2 linked regions of the Homo sapiens genome follow. The protein of the gene in region 2 purifies or fractionates together with the protein of the main gene of each other region. This does not show direct contact. Each region holds a gene or a part of one and is shown on either strand. Other genes may lie near its edges.

The links. The genes of interacting proteins can lie anywhere in the genome.
Region 1: the proteins of VIRMA (region 2) and NUP93 purify together in Homo sapiens (affinity purification with mass spectrometry; 2 studies listed by BioGRID, with this or other methods). This does not show direct contact.

What each region holds. Positions count from the first base shown.
Region 1 is NC_000016.10:56,838,129-56,841,628, reverse strand, and holds part of NUP93 (nuclear pore complex protein Nup93), read right to left. Parts: intron 2,678-3,500; coding exon 2,560-2,677; intron 2,109-2,559; coding exon 2,025-2,108; intron 1-2,024. UniProt on the Homo sapiens protein: Plays a role in the nuclear pore complex (NPC) assembly and/or maintenance. May anchor nucleoporins, but not NUP153 and TPR, to the NPC. During renal development, regulates podocyte migration and proliferation through SMAD4 signaling.
Region 2 is NC_000008.11:94,522,470-94,525,969, reverse strand, and holds part of VIRMA (protein virilizer homolog), read left to right. Parts: intron 1-3,500. UniProt on the Homo sapiens protein: Associated component of the WMM complex, a complex that mediates N6-methyladenosine (m6A) methylation of RNAs, a modification that plays a role in the efficiency of mRNA splicing and RNA processing.

The DNA of each region.
Region 1 (3,500 bases), on a different chromosome or scaffold from region 2:
TGCTCCAGGCAGGCCTGGTTGCACCACTCCTCACCATTGCCAGGTGGAGAGCCACACAGTCACCCAAAAGGAGCTGATGGCACTGAAACATCAAGTGTGAGAAAAAAACCCAAGCAATGCTGCTCAGGTCAGGTGGTTACTGTTCCTGCTCCTTTATGCTGTTTTTCCCTTAGTCAGGGGCAGTGAGCCAAAAGCATGCTGACATCTGGTTAGCATTAGGCTTAGACTGGCCAGCAGAGTGGCTGCCATTAAATAATTTGAACTTGAATGTCAGGAGGTACAGGTGCACACGCTACTTCTCCACAGTCCCTACCACTCCTCACTCTCTCAAACTCACCGGGCTGTTTCCACTAGATCTGCATGACCCTACCAGAGTCCTTGGGAGTGTCTATAAGGCCAGGCCCTCGTGTACCACTTTAATCCCTGATGCAATGAAGGATGCATTCAAGGAAAGGCCAGAAATAACAAAGGAGCAAGTGGCTAAGGGTAGAAGCCACAGCAGGTATAAAGGGAAGGTCAGCAAGGGGCAAGACCTTCTGAACTGTGTGTACCACAGCAGTCAACATCCCTCTTCATGTGCAGAACTGGCCTTACTTCTTTCTCTAAAATAGAAACTTTTTTTTTTTTTTTTTGAGACAAAGTCTCCCTCTATCGCCCAGGCTGGAGTGAAGTGGCGCAATCTCGGCTCACTGCAACCTTTGCTTCCCGGGTTCAAGCGATTCTCGTGCCTCAGCCTCTGGAATAGCTGGGACTACAGGTATGCGTCACCACGCCCGGCTAATTTTTGTATTTTTTAGTAGAGATGGGATTTTACCATGTTGGCCAGGCTGGTCTCGAACTCCTGACCTCAGGTGATCAGTCCGCCTCAGCCTCCCAAAATGTTGGGATTATAGGTGTGAGCCACCGCACCTGGCTGGAGACATTTTATAAAAGGCATCTGCTCAATGAGGAAGAATTGTAAACTGAAAGACCACTAGTGACATCCCAGAGCCAGGCAGCTGGTTCTAGAGTCTATAGTGTCGACAGCTGAGTTGAGTGTTTATAGTTCTAGAGAAGAATTTACCTGGGCCACACACTGGAATGACTGGGGGAGGTCTGGGCTGCAGCAATCAGGGAAAACAGAATCTCTGGGGTGTAGGCATGAGGGTTTTTAGAAACTTTTCTAGAGATGCCAGTATGCAGCCCAGCTGAGCACCCTAGGCTAGATGCTGGCAATATGCTAGAAACCCAACAGACAGTGGCTCTGGGGCTTATGGGGTGATAGCTTACTCCGCGGTCACTGCACTTGCGTCTTTAGACAAAATGGATTGGCTGGGCACGGTGGCTCACGCCTGTAATCCCAGCATTTTGGGAGGCCGAGGCGGGCAGATCACGAGGTCAGAAGATCGAGACCATCCTGGCTAACACGGTGAAACCCCATCTCTACTAAATATACAAAAAATTAGCTGGGCGTGTTGGCGGGCACCTGTAGTCCCAGCTACTCGTGAGGCTGAGGCAGGAGAATGGTGTGAACCCGGGAGGTAGAGCTTGCAGTGAGCCAAGATCACACCACTGCACTCCAGCCTGGGTGACAGAGTGAGACTCCTCCGTTTCAAAAACAAAAAAATCCCAAAACAGATAAGGGAGGGCAAAGGTGGCAGTGAATCATGATGTGTTTCACGTACCCAATGGAACTACTTAAAGATGATCAGAGTTAAGCACTAAAATACCCTCTAGCACAAGCGGATAATAGAAGAATTAAACCAGACTTCACAGATCAACCAGAAACCTGTTTCTCCCAAGAACATGTCAATCACTGAAGTGACTGTATTTTCTCAATTAGGAATTCAGACAATAATCTGATGGGGATGTATGCACTCACAGAAAAGCCAGGCCAAGGTATCTGAAAGGGAACCACTCTGGAAAACTCAGTCTGGATAGTTACTGTAACTAGAATTCTTAAAGCTGTTAGGTACAGGAAAAGAAAAAGCTTTTGGTGGAAGTGGGGAAAAAGGAATTCCACAACTCAGGAAGAAGGAACTTACTTCATCACTGAAATTTCTGAAGGCAGCCACTCTCTCTTCCACACTTTCCTGATTCAGGGGCACCAGCTTCAAGCGCTCAATGATCTGTTTAAAACAACCACCGGCCCCATGTAACACAACCATCACAGTCATTTCATCTCTCTACATGTAAAGTCAGCACCTCACATACTCCAAAGGGCTTCTTCATAGAAAACGCCATTCCTCCTTGTACACACAAAGGCTTTGATTCTAACTAGCTAACTTAATTCTTATCATCATTTCCTGACACAATTTTTAAAATTCTGAGATTGCAAATTACTTTGAGAAACTTCTCTGTTTTCAGATTAAAGGGGAAAGGAATAGGCAAAAAAAAAAAAAAAAAAAAAAAAAAAGCCACACAGGAAACTCCTTTTAAGTCCCAGGATTGTACTTGTCTTTCTTTATACAACAAACATACTGGCAACAGCTCCTTTGTTTTAAGTAAATTCCATGAAGTGTTTTGAATTTTCGAGGGTGTACATTAACCTGCACTTCAAACACCTTTCCTGAAACTTACATCAAAAGCTCTATCAATATGACCACTATGATACTCGTCAAAAAAGGTGATCAAGTCCAAAAGAAGATAGAACGTGGAGTCCACAAATTTATTTGCGCTTATTCCTTGAGCCCTATACCTGAAAGACAAAAACGGGGTGGGGGTAGTAAGAGTGTATCAGGAATTTCTGTGTAATCCGTAACAGTGGAATAGCATTTAAAAAAACAGTGGGGTGTGGTCGCTCATGCCTGTAATCTCAGCTACATGGGAGGCTGGGGCGGAAGGATTGCTTGAGGCCAGGAGTCAGTGACCAGCCTGGACACACAGCGAGACCCCATCTCCACAAAATATTAAAATATTAACTGAGTGTGGTGGTACATGCCTGTAGTCCTAGTTACTCAGGAGGCTGAGGTGGGAGGATTGCTTGAGCCCAGGAGTTCAAGGTTACAGTGAGCTATGACTGCACTACTGCACTCCACTCCAGCCTGGGTGATACAGGGAGACCCTGTCTTAACATACAAAAAAAATGTATAAAAAGCATCAAAACCTTCTGAGCTCTCTGGGTGAAGTTAATTAAAGAGTGTAAAATGGTGTTTATTTTGAAACAGCCAAGCACTGATAGTGGATTTGGTATGAATCCACCTACAGGTACTCCACCACATGAAGCATGGTTCTCCAGCCTTGATCATCATCTCAGCATCCAATCTTCATGAAAGGTGGGAGGTCGTGATGGGCAAAAAGCCGAGCAGCCCTCACTGGGGATTGTTTGCTAGGTGGAGATATCTCATTTACCAAAGAATGTTCTTTTTTGTTACCCCGGGAAGGCACCCCAAACCCAGTTTTCTCTGGGTCATTTTACTAGGAATATCTACAGAGAGCGCAAAAAGTAATGTTGTTAGCTTCAGCCTGGGACTTAAACTAGTTAGAAGTCTGATAATTCAGTTAACTCACTGGGGATCCAG
Region 2 (3,500 bases):
CATGTCTATGAGCAAGAATAAATGAGAAACTGCTGACTTGCTTCTGGGAAGGTGGTAACAAAGGAATGGTGTAGGAAGGAGAGCTCTTCTGTGTGAACCCATCTGTACTTACTACTCTTAATACATTGTAAGTTAAAATTATATTTTACTAGCTTAATTTTACAGTGCTGGTTAAAGATGTCTTTAAGTTTCCATTACTACTTGTTTCTGCCATCTACCTCTCTCATCTGTTGATACAGTTTTGCCATTGTTAGGACCAGCATCCCTAGTAGATTTTTTATTTTGTTTTGAGACTTTCTTTCTTACCATTTGCCTGTAAATAATTTCCTAACATAAAAATGGAAAAATGGCATTTGAATTATTTTATTACTTATTTTTGTGATTAATATTTTCATTGATTTGGATGGAGCATAGTGCATTCCCAGGGGATGGGATATGTGTCCAGTCTAAAACCTCCACTTATCCAAGTTCCTGTTTTTAGCTGAAACTGTTACACCTTGTCTTAGTTTTGAGTTTCCTAAAAGGATAACTTGAGTCAAAGTCTTGGGTGCAGGTTCTTTGAAAGATTATCCTAGGAAGCAGAAATGCCTGAAGAGAGTAAGATAAGGAGAAAAACCAGTAAAGGAAGTGTTATTATACTTATTGCTGTGGACAGCTGGGGCTCATCCTACTGGGGATCCTCCGAAGAACTGGTTAAAGTGTATCTCCTGCTTATCCTCCTAAAACATTCAGGCTGGGCATTCGTCTACCAACTCTCCCCTTTGGTTCAAGGATGCCCACAAGAAACTTTTAACTCTTTTATGCTTCTGAGCTGTTCCTGCTTGTGGTCCGAGCACCCTTTAATCCCTTTGGGGGGAACCCTGAGAAAGAAAGGTAGAGAGGCCCAAAGTGAACACTTGAGGCCAGATACTGGCAACCCTCACAGATTGTGTACTGGGAAATCAATGGGTCAGTGATGGGAGGTTGGGGAGCAGTAATATGTAAGAGATGGGCAGAGAATGCATTTAGGCAGGATACTTAGAAGGAATAGAAAGACAAAATGAGAAGCAGGAGAGAATAGAAACTAAGGAAGCAAATAGTTTTAGGAACCAGTGAATGGTTTGTTGTGATACTGTGCAGAGGTTCAGAAGATAAGGATAGGAAATCATGTATTTTGTAACATAGATTGCAAATGGGGCTCTGGCAAAAGTAGTTTAATGTAGCAGTGGGAGAGGAAGTGTAGATGAAAAACCACTGGCCAGTAAGGATTTGAAATGGTGTAGGCCACTGTTTTAAGAAATGTGGGTGGATCACCTAAGGTCAGGAGTTTGAGACCAGCCTGGCCAACATGGCAAAACCCCATCTCTACTAAAAATAAAAAACTAGAGCCGGGTGTGGTGGCTCACGCCTGTAATCCCAGCACTTTGGGAGGCTGAGGTAGGCAGATCATCTGAGTTCAGGAGTTCGAGACCAGCCTGACCAACATGACGAAACCCTGTCTCTACTAAAAATACAAAAATTAGTCGGGTGTGGTGGTGGGCGCCTGTAATCCCAGCTACTTGGGAGGCTGAGGCAGGAGAATCATTTGAACCTGGAGGTTAGAGCATGCGGTGAGCCAAGATCTGGCCACTGCACTCCAGCCTGGGCTACAGAGTGAGACTCTGTCTCCAAACAAACAAACAAACAAACACCGGCCAGGCATGGTGGCTCACGCCTATAATCCCAGCACTTTGGGACGCCAAGGCAGGTGGTTCACCTGAGGTCGAGAGTTCAAGACCAGCCTGACCAGCATGGAGAAACCCCATCTCTACTAAAAATACAAAATTAGTGGGGCATGGTGGCGCATGGGTGTAATCTCAGCTACTTGGGAGGCTGAGGCAGGAGAATTGCTTGAACCCGGGAGGCAGAGGTTGCAGTGAGCTGAGATCTCACCATTGCACTCCAGCCTAAGCAACAAGAGCGAAACTCCGTCTCAAAAAAATAAATAAACAAGTAACAAAAACACACACACACACAGACACACACAAAAACTAGCCGGGCTTTGGTGGAATGTGCCCGTAAACCCAGCTACTTGGGAGGCTGAGGCAGGAGAATCCTTTGAACCCGGGAGGTTGGAGGTTCTGGTGAGCCGAGATCGGGCCACTGCACTCCAGCCTGGGCAACAGAGTGAGATGCTATCTCAAAAAAAGAAAAACTAGCCAGGTGTGGTGGTGCATGCCTGTAATCCCAGCTAACTCGGGAGGCTGAGGCAGGAGAATCGCTTGAACCCAGGAGGCAGTGGTTGCAGTGAGCCGAGATCGTGCCACTGCACTCCTGCCTGGGCGACAAGAGCGAAACTCCGTCTCAAAAAAGAAATTTGGCCAGCCTGGGCAACATAGGGAGACCGCTACAGAAAATAAAAAATCAAAAAAAAAATAGCTGGGAATGGTAGTGTGCGCCTGTAGTCCCAGCTGCTCAGGAGGCTGAGGTGGGAGGATTGCTTGAGCCTGAGAGGTTAAGGGTGCAGTGAGCTGTGATTGTGCCACTGCACTCCAGTCTGGGCAGCAGAGTGAGACTGTGTCTCAAAACAAGAAATTTGGCTAAGAGAAAAAGTAAGAGACAAGGCAGCAGCTAGAAGGAGATGTTGGAGTCAAAAAGGAAGGTTTTTATTTTTTAGGAGTGGGAGAGGCTTGAGCATATTTGTAGGCTGGGAATAATGACTCATTTATAATAAAAAGTCAGTGGAGAGGGAGATGTTTATGATGTAGGAGTAAACAATAACAATTCCTGGGGCAAGGCTTGGTGGGAGATGAGGACAAGAGTACAAGTGTAGGAGTTTGGTTTTGGGCAGGAGAAAGGGAATCTTGTAAGTATGCAAATATAATACATTTGTAGTCTTGGAGATTGTAAAGAAATTTAAATACTTCTTACTAACAACTTTATTTTTAGTAGAATAGGTGATGTTTTCAGTCACTGAGAAGAAGCTAGTAATTAAATACTTACTGAGTGTTTTTTTCCCACCATATGGAGGAGGTATATTTGGGTATCAGACAAGAGGAAATAAAGGGCCCAGAATGGTTGTGCTAAGGAATTTGGATTTTATTTGTAGAATATGGAAAGGTATTGAATATTTTGGAGTAGCAGATCTGATATGATCAGAGTAATATTCTCAGATTTTGTGTTGCAAGATGTATTGCAATGGAAAAGAAATTAGAGTTACTAGGAAGATAAGATAGTCTGAGGTTTCTAGGTACTGGGTTTTAAGTACTTTGCCCTTAACAGGTAATGGAAAGGCAAATATTGTGCTTATAGTGACAGAGATTGTGAAATAGCCATTATATTATATAATAGTACTAGGACTTGGCAACAGGACCTAGTAGGCGAAGGGAAGTGAGAAGAAGCTAGAGATTTCTAGCCAGGGTAGCAATTGGAGCTGTGGTTTTATTGACAGAAACTGGTAAATTAGGAAGGAGAGTGAATTTTGAAAGGAAAAATAATTGTACTTTGGAGGGTTTGTTTTTGAAGTGGTGGCAAGGCTCTAT